Regions from separate parts of the Homo sapiens genome. Here region 2 is linked to region 1. A link means that fine-mapping ties the variant in region 1 to the expression of a gene that starts in the linked region. Tissue or cell type: whole blood. Region 1 holds a variant in brackets; the other region holds the start of a gene. All regions are shown on one strand. Distances are from middle to middle.

Region 1 (5,501 bases):
CTCGCGAGTAGCTGGGATTACAGGCACCTGCCACAACGCCCAGCTAACTTTTTATATTTTAGTGGAGATGGGGTTTCACCATGTTGGCCAGGATGGTCTTGATCTCCTGACTCTGTGATCTGCCCGCCTCGGCCTCCCAAAGTGCTGGGATTACAGGCGTGAGTCACCACGCCCGGCCAATTTAACATTTTTCAACATGTGATGTTTTCACCTTCTCCCGCATGAATGTAAACACCTTGAGGTGAACTCCCTGTCTGAAGTTCTCACTGCAGCCTTCCTTGCACCCAGCACAGCATCTCAGGTACACTGGATGCTTGGCAGCCAAGCAAGGAAGGCCATCTGTGCCTCCACAGCTTTGAGACTAGATGGACTACATCTACCTTTGCATCTGGCCAGCATTCCTCCAAATGTAGGGTATACTAGGAAGGCTGGGCTGAACCACAGGCTCCATGGAGTCTCTTGAATTTATCTGGCTACCCTCCTGGAAGCCCAGTACTGGAAACAAAGCCCAGGAGGCCCACATGATGCTGCTCTGGGGAGCAGGCCCTTGGAAATGAAACCCCATGGGTGAGGAAGCCCTGATTGTCTGGATAGAAAGTTCCTGAGGTAGATTTGGGGTTGCTTTTTCTTCTAGAGACTTCTAGATACTCTAGATATTCTCTCCTTCCTGAGGCAGACTTGGGGCTGCTTTTTCTTCTAGAGACTTCTAGATACTCTAGATATAACTCTAGATACTTCTCTCCTTCCTGATGACTAAGGATGTTAGAGTAGCTAATGAGTGTGGGGCATGAGCCACGCACCTGGCACCTCACTAAGTACTTCACACACATCATCTGCTCAAATCCCCCACATGACTCCATGAGATGGGCATTATCATCGCCAGGACACAGCTGAGGAAACTGAGGCCAAGAAAGCTCCCAAGGTCACCAGGCTGGGAAGCAGCAGAACATCTCAGGCGTGTTTGCCTGTCCCCTGCCTTCCAGCATCTCTGCACCCTCCCCCACGCCCTGAAGGAAGTGGGGGTGGAGGAGAGAGCGCTGCAGGCAGCAGATGAGCTCTTGGAAAACTGGGAGGTTTCTCAAGATAGGAGCTGGGAGAGAAATGCCACAGTTAGGGCCCTCCTTGAAGCTACCCACAAGGGCTCCGGAGGGGTGAGAGTGCTCTCTTACTGGAGTAGTCAAAAGACAGTCTTGCAGCATGCCGCCCCCTCCCCTCCTCGATATTCTCACTGCCAAATGAAATCTGGCAGTTTCTGAAAATAGCTCAGCGCTGCAGCAGGCACTCTGCCCGCCCTTCAGCAGGCTGGCACACAGCTGGGGGTGGCCACTCTGGGCAGATGCTGGCACACACAGGACCGGGGGTAGGTGTCACACACACTGCACAGGGGCAGCACAGAGCTGGGGGCATGTGGCAGCTGCCATCCCTCAGCTCTTCTGACCTTTCTAGGCCTGGCGAGGACTCTGGCCTTGGAGTTAGCATGGCATGCTTATCAGGCCTGAGGCACCCCCTCCAGCTGGGGTGAAATCACTAGTGGGTCTGAGAAGCTGCCCTTGGGCCACCTTTGTCCACCCCTGTAGACAAAGAGTAAACCCAGGAGCCAAGAGAAAATGATGAAATGGTGTTTATTACTATCTGGATGTAAAACCCAGCAGTGTTGTCCTATCTGACATGGTCTAGGGTTTCCCAGCCAGTGAGAGAGGGGCCAGGAAGGAACTAGGCTGCGTGTCAGGCACTTGTCAGGCAGTATCAGGCACTCAGCACCCTAAGGCTACCATGGTGGGGTGGGGCTGGTAAGCTCTGATCAGCCAGGAAAGGCCCTCTCTGCCCTACTCAGGCCCAAGCCAGGACCAGACATTCTGAGCATGGCTCAGTCGCCTTCCCCAACCTCAGGTCTGACCCAGAGTAAAGAAAGAGACCTCAGGTTAATGGGAAGCCACTTAGCTCTGCTCCCAACCAGCCACTTTCACACAAGTATACCAAAAGATAGCCCCTGACTTCAACAGAGAGGGGCTTTCCTGCCTGAGATCTGGTGAGCAGATGGGTGCAGGGAAAGTATGCTGGCTTTTGTCACAGTGACATTTTCCAAAGTGGAAAAAAGTTAAAAATATCTCCCACCTTAAGTTCAGA[T/G]GAAAAGTCACCCTTTGGGTCGGGAATAGTGAGGGGATGGCTAGGCCCAGGGACTCCCTCAGGGGAGAGCGCTGAGTGCCATCTGGGCTGGGGCTGCAGCAAGGCAGGGCTGGACTGCACAGGGAGGCAGGCAGACCGGATCCAGCAGCCTCAGGGCCCAAGGAGGAGTGAGAATGAGAGGGCCAGCCAGTGTGTGAGAAATCAGCCTCCCCAAGGCAGAGGTGAACCCTCAATCGCCCCTCCTCCCTTACTCGCTCACTCAGCATTCACAGGCAGCAACGTGGTCCCTGGTCACCATGGCAACCAATGGCCAATGCCTTTCTCAAGGCCAGGCCCATCTGCCCATCCCACAGGGAGATGTCTCTGTGGAAGATGGGAAGCCCAGCCACAACTCCCAGTGGCCTAGAAAGCTAAGGCCATGCACCAGGGCAGGACAGCACAGAGGCCTCACTCGGGCCAACCTAGCTAAAGGTGCTGCTATGGCAGCAGGCAGCTCCCAGCCCCTAGGCCCTGCCCATCTCTAGGGCTTGAGCCTGGGCCAGAGATCTGAAGGAGGTTTAGGGTCAGGGTCCTCCATCCTGAAGTTCCGAGTGACAAATTAAAACACAACAAAATAATCCTTTTGTTAAAAGAATGACCCTGGGCCCTCCTGGCCAGGGCCTGAGCACATTTCAGTCTGTTATGCAGGCTGAGAGGCCAGGCTCCTCCAAGGCCCCATGAGCTACTGGTTGTTGCAGCCCTGTGAGGCAGAGGAGCTGCCTGCCTGCTTTTTTCTCCTCTTGTTGAGGAGCCGGTTGTTAGAGGTCTTCAGGTCCTTGATCTTCACCTGGTCGTAGTCTACCCGCATAGTGGCCAAGGCACTGGTCATCTCCTCCTGGGGACAGACAGGATGGTGGGCACTAAGAGGTCAGGATGTACTGACCTTAGGAACCATCACCCCCCTGCCTGGGCAGCCCCTTAATGTCAGTGACAGCCTGTGCTGCCTCTGTGCCCACTGTGTGCCCAGCACTGGGCCAAGCCCTTTGCATCACATGATCCTCACTACCGTCCTCTGTGGTAGACACTGAGCTTATTCACTAAGGCACAAAAGGAGAGTTACTCCCTCGGACCACACCAAGGGTAAGTGGGATAGTGAACTAAACCAGTTCCACCACAGAACCACAAGACCTGCAGAGAATGCCATCTCGCTGGGCAACCAGCGCACTGGGGCCTGGAGATTGTGCCACTGGAGCTGCTACTCCATATGTTCAAACGTGGCCTCTGCTGGGTCTAAACCAGGCTGACCACCCTCCCAAATGTTGTTGGTTATAAGAGAGGTCATCATCCAAGCTTGGTACCAAAGCCCCGTTTCATTGAGGAAGTGAGCCAGGAGCACCACACTGAATGGCGTAGTGAGGCCCAATCCTTGGAGTGCCATGGTTGGACCACTGCGACAGTCACTGACACCCTGTGCTCCAGGTATAGAAAGGGGCCAAAGACCCCAGACCCTGGGTAGCCACCCCCCTGAAGTCCCTTTTGCCCAAATCCTGGCACCTGTATTGAGACTGAGGCAGAGCCCACCCACCTTGACTTCGTCCCAGTGGTCTTTGTCCTCCTGCAGCACTCGGGCCGTGTGGAGTGGGGTCTGTGGCACTACCATCGATTGCTGGAAGGAGCCCCACGCCCGTGGATTAGAAACTGGAGGCACCTGGGACAGCACTGGTTCCCCCTACTCCATCCTCTTCTCCCAGACTCAGATGGAAAAACCAAGGCTCAGGGTGGGGAAGGAGCCTCACTAGGGCAGTGACAAAGCCAGGTTGTAGGTGAGGCCCTAGTATCTACCTGTGTGCATGGGCCCATTCCAGCCCTGCACTGGGGCCTCAAAGCAGAGCCACCACCCTCCTGCCCGGCAGCCCCACTCCTGTTGGACACCCTGCCTGCCATGGGAGGAGGAGGGGCTCACGTTGATCCAGGGGTGGTTCATGAACTGAGTGATGGTCAGCCTCTCTGTGGGGTCTGTCTTCAACAGGAGGCGGATCAGCTGCTTGGCTAGGGGGGCCAGGGAAGAGAGGGGAGAGATGAGATTGCAGAGCCAGCCCCTCCACCCTTCCCCACAGACCACAAGCTCTGCTGGGGCAGGGGCTGCATGTGCTCCCAAATTCCCAACCCACAGAAAGAGTGAGCTAACAACTATTTCTTGTTTTGAAACACTAAGTGTTCAGGATAATTGGTTAAGCAGCAGTAGATAACTCATACAGGGCAGCCTTGTTTGTGGTCCTCAAAGGGGAAAATATGAATGAGGAATAGGAGTTAGAGGGAGTTTTGAGGAGGCAAGTTTTGAGCCTGTTTGGCAGATGTAGAAACTGAGGCTCAAGAAGGTTAGGGGACTTGCCTAGGGTCCCATAGCTGGAAAGAGGGGGAGCCAAGATTTGAACACAGGTCAGTTTGACACCAAAGTGATGTTTCCCAGAATGAAAGCCGCAGGGGCCAGGTGAGTCAGGCTGGGACAGAGAGGTTCACTCACCATCCTCAGAGACTTCTGACCACTCAGGATTGGGGAAGCCGTACTGGCCCAGGCGAATCCTCCTCTTCATCCCCGGGGAGATGGCCTGGCCCGTGTTGGAGTAGAAGGGTGGGAAGCCACAAAGGCTGGGGGAAGGGGTAAGTCATTTGGCATAGGGTGGGAGCAGTGCCAGGGTGGACCCATTTCCCCTCAAAAGCCCCTGACTGGGGAGACAGACAACCAGACACCATAGCAATAATACCAGCCCTCCGGACTCCCAGGCACATCCCAGGAATGCCATCAGCCCTTGGCATGGGGAGACCCTCAGGCACCTGAAGGAGTGGTGTCCCATGACCAAAAGGGAAGGGCAGCCTGCATGAGGAGTGACACACACAAGCTCCTCACCAAGGACATGGGGGTGGGGGGACAGAAGTGGTCCTGAGGGCTCACAGTGGGGGTAAGGGCAGGAGATGGAGGCAGGGGGTGGGGAAGGTACTCACAGGATGTACATGATGACACCCAGGGACCACATGTCACATGACTTGTCATACTTCTCTGGACCCAGGACCTCAGGGGCTGCCAGGGCAGAGGGACAGCAGGGCTCTCAGACCCAAGGGTCTTGGAGCCCAGGCAGGAGCCTAAAGCCTGGGCAAGGTGGGGAGCAGGTACCTGGGCTGGGAGGTAGGGCAGAGCAGACTGGCGTCTGGCACCTTTTGGAAAGGCAGCATGTGTGTGAAGTTGGGGGAGGAGAAAGCTCCTGGAAAAAAATCAACCACTTTCAGACATACCCCTAGCTCCCTTGGGCCTGAGCCCCTCTACCAGTCTCAACCTTGGTGAAAGAAGAGAAGAGAAGGCCAGTCTGGGGCTTGGTGGGAAGCTACCGTAGGTGAGA
Region 2 (5,251 bases), 21 kb before region 1:
GTTTTCTGCTGCCTAGAGAATCACACAGCAGCATTTAAGGAGCCAGCCAGTCTGATGACTCAGCTCATAAAACAATGTGTGGCCACAAAGATGATGTTTATCCATGAGCATTCTGGAGGCTCTTGCTACTGAAGTCGGCAAGCAGTGGATAAGTGGCACACGATGCTCATTCTCAAGAGTTTCTGGCAGCGGTGCCAACACAGCACTCACTTCCCTCTCTCAGCAGTTGATTTCATCTGATGCTCTGTCCAAACAGAATGGTAGAAAAAAACATCAGAGAAATGCAGTGGGTATAGAGGCAAATCCAAACAAAGTGCAGGTGATAGTGGTGACATTCTGCCTTCTCTTGATCAGAAGGTGTCAGCAGCTGGAGCTTATCCCCATATGAACCCCAGGGTCAGGTAAATGGAAGACTTAAGAACACGTTACCCAACTTACCTCTGCCCTTCTGGGTTCCTCAAGGAGGGGGTCTGCTGTGGTTAGTAAAACGTCTGCGGAGCTAGTTTCCTTCATGGCAGAGAGATGCGCAAGCTAGTCTCACTTCACCAGCACCTCTTATTTACCCCAAAGCAACACCTTTTAGGAAGCCTCCTTTCAGGAGGCAGCTTTGGAATAAGGGGCTAATTCAAAGTAAGTTAACACAAAGGCTGTACACAGTGGCTCACACTTGTAATCCCAGCACTTTGGGAGGCTGAGGCAGGCAGATGACTTGGGGCCAGAAGTTCAAGACCAGCCTGGCCAACATGGTGAAACCCCGTCTCTACTAAAAATACAAAAATTAGCCAGTCATGGTGGTATGCGCCTGGAGTCCCAGCTACTTAGGAGGCTGAGACAGGAGAATCACTTGAACCCAGGAAGCAGAGATTGCAGCGAACCAAGATTGCTCCACTGCACTCCAGCCTGGTGACAAAGTGAGAATGTGTCTGAAAAAAAAAAAAAGATAAAGTTAACACAGAGATGGCTGACACAATTAGAGCACTTTCAGGTGAAGAGACCTAAAGTGTCTAAGAAGATATTAGTATTTTGCTTTAAGTTTTGTTGCATCTGAATATATTTTCAGTAGGGAGGGGATAGGGAAGAGTGTGACAGGAAGACAGATTAAGCAGTACAATATTTCATTATTTTCCCTAAAATGACAAACTTTAACCATCTGTTCCTATTTTATCAACCCATTCAAAATGTTATTAAAATGTGGATTTCTTTCAGTTAGCCAAGGTCTTCAAATGAGAAATGGCCAAAGCTCTCCTGATTTTAATTCGTGGAGACTGATGTGGCACTTCTGGATGGGCTCTAATGAATAAGCCCCACCATGAGAAGCACCCCCAGATGTTTCCAGATGTGTCAGAGAATTCCCAGCACTTGCTTGCTGCCCACTTGACTGTGAGCTACCTGGAGACAGCACCATGCTATATTCTTTTTTATTTTTAGTGCCTAGCATGCAGCATCTGACACATAGTAGGTGCTCAGTAAATATTGTTTTAATTAATACATTAGTAAATGAGTGCTTTTAATGTTTTCCAGAAATTTATATTTTTGTTCCAATAGGGTTTTTGTTTGCATGTTTATTTTCTGTCCAGGAAAAAGGGCGGAGATAGAATCAAAAACAAGATACCCCCTGGAAGGAAGGGCAAATAGATAGAAACTTGGCATTACCTAGATCTCTTTTCCCTTGGGGGGAAATAATTATGTCCTTAAATTTCTGCACTAAGTCACCAAGGAGGGCTTGAAATTAAAAACCTTGGAGAGTAATTAGCAACAAAACGTTCTGATGTCAAAAAGCACATTTTATAGGACCACATTTGTAATATTAATTGGGCCTCTGCATAGCCAAATGGTGAAATTATTGCTACAATACAAACAGGCCCAAAAGAGAAAAACAGCCCAAAATAGCACAGATATTCCAAATCAGGACAGAGGTAATTTCTCTATACATAAAAAACCACCAATTGAATGCCTTCACCAACTCACTTGAGTTAAATGAGTTAAAAAACAAAAGCCTGTTGAGTAGTGTAGCACCACCTACCCCATCTCTGAAATGCTATGGGACTGGGGCTAGGAAAAGAACCGAGACTTTATCCCCACCAGCTTTTCATACTTTTTATCTTGAAGTGTAAAAAGTTTGAATCATTTATTTACCAAAAATTTATTGAGCACCTATTATGGGCCAGGTCCAGAGCAAAAAAAAAAAAAAAAAAAAAAAACAGCGAGCCACTGCACCCAGCCTCTCTTCATGGAGTTTAGCATCTAGTTGGGAGAAGAGACACTGAACCAATAATCACACAAGCAAATATCTAATGAGAGACACAAGGACAGGTGCAGTGGCTCACGCCTGTAAATCCCAGCACTTTGGGAGGCTGAGGCGGGCAGATCATTTGAGGCCAAGAGGTCGAGACCAGCCTGGCCAACATGGCGAAACCCTGTCTCTACTAAAAATACAAAAATTAGCCAGGTGTGGTGGTGGGTGCCTGTAGTCCCAGCTACTCGGTAGACTGAAGCAGTAGAATCACTTGAACCCGGGAGACAGAGGCAGAGGTTGCAGTGAGCAAAGACTGCACCACCACTGCACTCCAGCGTGAGTGACAGAGCAAAACACCATCAAAAAAAAAAAAAAAAAAAAAAAAAAACGAAGAGAGATACAAGTACTAGGAAAGAAGAGAAAGAGAAAGGGTACATGTACAGAGGGAGCCTCAGCCAGGGATTCTGACCTAGTTTGCAAATAGGGAAGACTTCCTGGAGGAAATGATATTTAAACTGGAGGCTGACAATACATACAAATTAGCCAAGTAAAGAAGAGAAAAGTGTTCTAGACAGAGCAAGCAGCATTTGGGAAAGGTGAATCTGGTGAAGAAGGAGCTTAACGTATCCAAGGAATGGAAAGGCCAGTGTGACCAGGACATGATGTGTGAGCGAGCAAGTGGGGAGTGGGGAGAAATGTGCGGACTAGAGTGGAAGATAGGGGCAGCCGCTGGGGCCTTGCCACGTCCCATGACATTAGGGAACCAGCCATTGACAGACCTTGGGTCAGAAGCAGAGATAAGAGACATGAATAAGAACATGATCTCCCCTCAAGGAGATCCTGGGCTTGTTGAGGGAACAGCCTAGGAAAAGGCCTATCCTCTTGAGTCCTGGGCTCAGAGGCACCACTGCACATTCCCCAATTCTCTGAGCACCAACAAAGTCTGTGCAGAAGCATCTAGGACCACTGCTCACACAGGACCACTCCAGGCTTCTTTCTCCTCCTTGAGCCAATCTTTCCTTTGTTCTCAAGATGGCACATCTGTGCCAGGCTCCAGCGCTCATCTCCCGGGTTTGGAGGGGAAGCACAGCTTACCTCCCTACACAGCCCACTCTCCAGGTTCTGTGACCCACTGCTTTAGCTGTGGTCTCAACACCTTGCTTGTCCCTCACACCCCTGCCCATGCTAAGGGTCCAGGGAAAGAATGTTGCCAGGGGCACCAACAAGCAATTGGCCCTGAATCTGATCAAGGATTACTGCTAATCTCTTCCTTGAGGAACATTTAATACAGGATGCCAAAAAAGAGAAATCTTTAGAGAATTCTCTCACAAGATCACACCTTAGGACTTGTACTCGGAACATGCAGGGCCCTGACCCAGGGAGCAGCAGGAATAGTACTCACTCTGTCACCACTGAAGAAGAGCAACTCTAAGAAATGGGGACTATTCTGTTCTCCAATTAGCATTGAGGGTGATGGATCAGAATTTATAATATGCAGTTATGAGTTATGGAACAATCAGAGAAGTGATCCTGATTCAGAAACCTGCCATTCCAGGAGCCATGGCAATTTTTCATGAGAACTCATCATGGGGTGGCCCCTGCCAAAACCTCACTTGCACCCAGCCTGTCCCAGCCCCAGTCTGTCACTCCAGCCCACTGACAGCCTCAGGCTTTTTCAAGTTTCAGGTGACCTAGCAACAGGGAATAGAACTTGAGAGCTCTGGAGTCAGAGCTGGGTTCACATCCAGCTCCAGATAGATACTTCCTAGCTGGGTGACCCCAGGCAAGTAGCTTAATCCCTCTGAACCGAGTTTCTTCCTGTCAGGTGGGAATCAGAATGGCTTCTACATCAGGGATGCTTCTGAGGATAATGCCTGCAAAGTTCTCAACACAGAGCCCGGCACAAGGTAAATGCTCACTAAACTTTGGAACCTTGCTCCCCTCCTACCAGCTCAAATTGCTTCCCAGAAATGCTGGGTCTCCTTGCATTTGTGGAATCTGCTTCTCCTCCAAGCTAGCCTGCGAGAGCTGGTTTGGTCACCCCTGCGCAGCTGGGCTGGCCTCCTGCGTCTGCCTCTTACCAGCCAGCACTTAACTCAGCATGAGCCTCTTCTCTCTATTTAACACCAAAAGAAATTGATTTCCCTAAGCTATTTCCATGATGCAGCACCCCTGAGAACTACATATTGCATCAGTTCTCCTCCATGACCATCAAACCCCCTGCTCACAGCCACTCTCCCTAGAGCCACAGGGTCCTCAGCTGCCAAGGCATAGATCTGTTTCATTTTGCACTTGCTTAAAGGTCAAACATGAATTTCTCCCCATTATTGTACTGTGTCTTGTCACACAGACTGTCTGTTTCATGGATTAGTCATAGTCTTGCTATCAAATTAGATATTCCTCAGTAGTTATTTTTAGATAAATCTTTTTCTAATTCTACACGGTGCAATGATGTGTGTGCACCCACAGCTCTGGAATCCAGGCATTACCAGGTGGGTTCCAAATTGTATGAGAGTTCACATTCCTCCAGAAAGCAACAGCCAGTGGAGCAGTGGAGTTTGTAACCTAGCTCTGTCCATGGACTCTTCTGTCCAGCCCAAAATAATTAATCCCCATGTCTTGGATAATCCAATCACTTATCATCAGTCCAGTAAAAGCCCAAAGGAGGCTTGTGACACAATTGTGAGTTAAGCAAAACATGTCTATGCCATCCCAACCTCTTGTTTGACTCTCTCCTTGATCTTAGTACAGAGGCACCAAAGGCAATTGTGCCTTCATGCCCTGCACCCCCATGGAAGACTGCCCTCGGGAAAGGCCCTGCCACCCTCCTGACTGAGACCTGAGTGAATATTACTGGTTATATCCCTGCTTGCTCCCATGGTTCTGCCTGCACACTCAGACCAGCGTCCATAGGGAAATGAGGTCCTCAGAACAGAATTTTAGACTTAACTGGGGTGAGTGTGCATGGAGAAGGAAGGGCTTGCTAAGAGGGAGTCCTCTTCACCTACTCCAAGG

Evidence for each region. PIP is the estimated chance that this variant, and not a neighbour inherited with it, causes the effect.
Region 2: it holds the start of LINC02019, and the variant in region 1 is fine-mapped to the expression of LINC02019 in whole blood (TOPMed, PIP 0.98).

The regions. Positions count from the first base shown.
Region 1 is chr3:50,645,394-50,650,894 of GRCh38, reverse strand. MAPKAPK3 (MAPK activated protein kinase 3) reads right to left here. Exons shown (of 11, transcript NM_001243925.2): 7 at 5,110-5,185; 8 at 4,631-4,755; 9 at 4,070-4,155; 10 at 3,692-3,772; 11 at 1,604-3,001. The coding sequence ends at 2,849. Among named protein-coding and RNA genes, the nearest start is that of LINC02019, 21 kb to the left of the region's middle. RefSeq lists enhancers at 1,273-1,826, 3,318-3,817. The variant T/G (reference allele first, on the strand shown) is at 2,128.
Region 2 is chr3:50,666,364-50,671,614 of GRCh38, reverse strand. LINC02019 (long intergenic non-protein coding RNA 2019) reads right to left here and starts at 2,176. Exons shown (of 2, transcript NR_183733.1): 1 at 439-2,176; 2 at 1-244.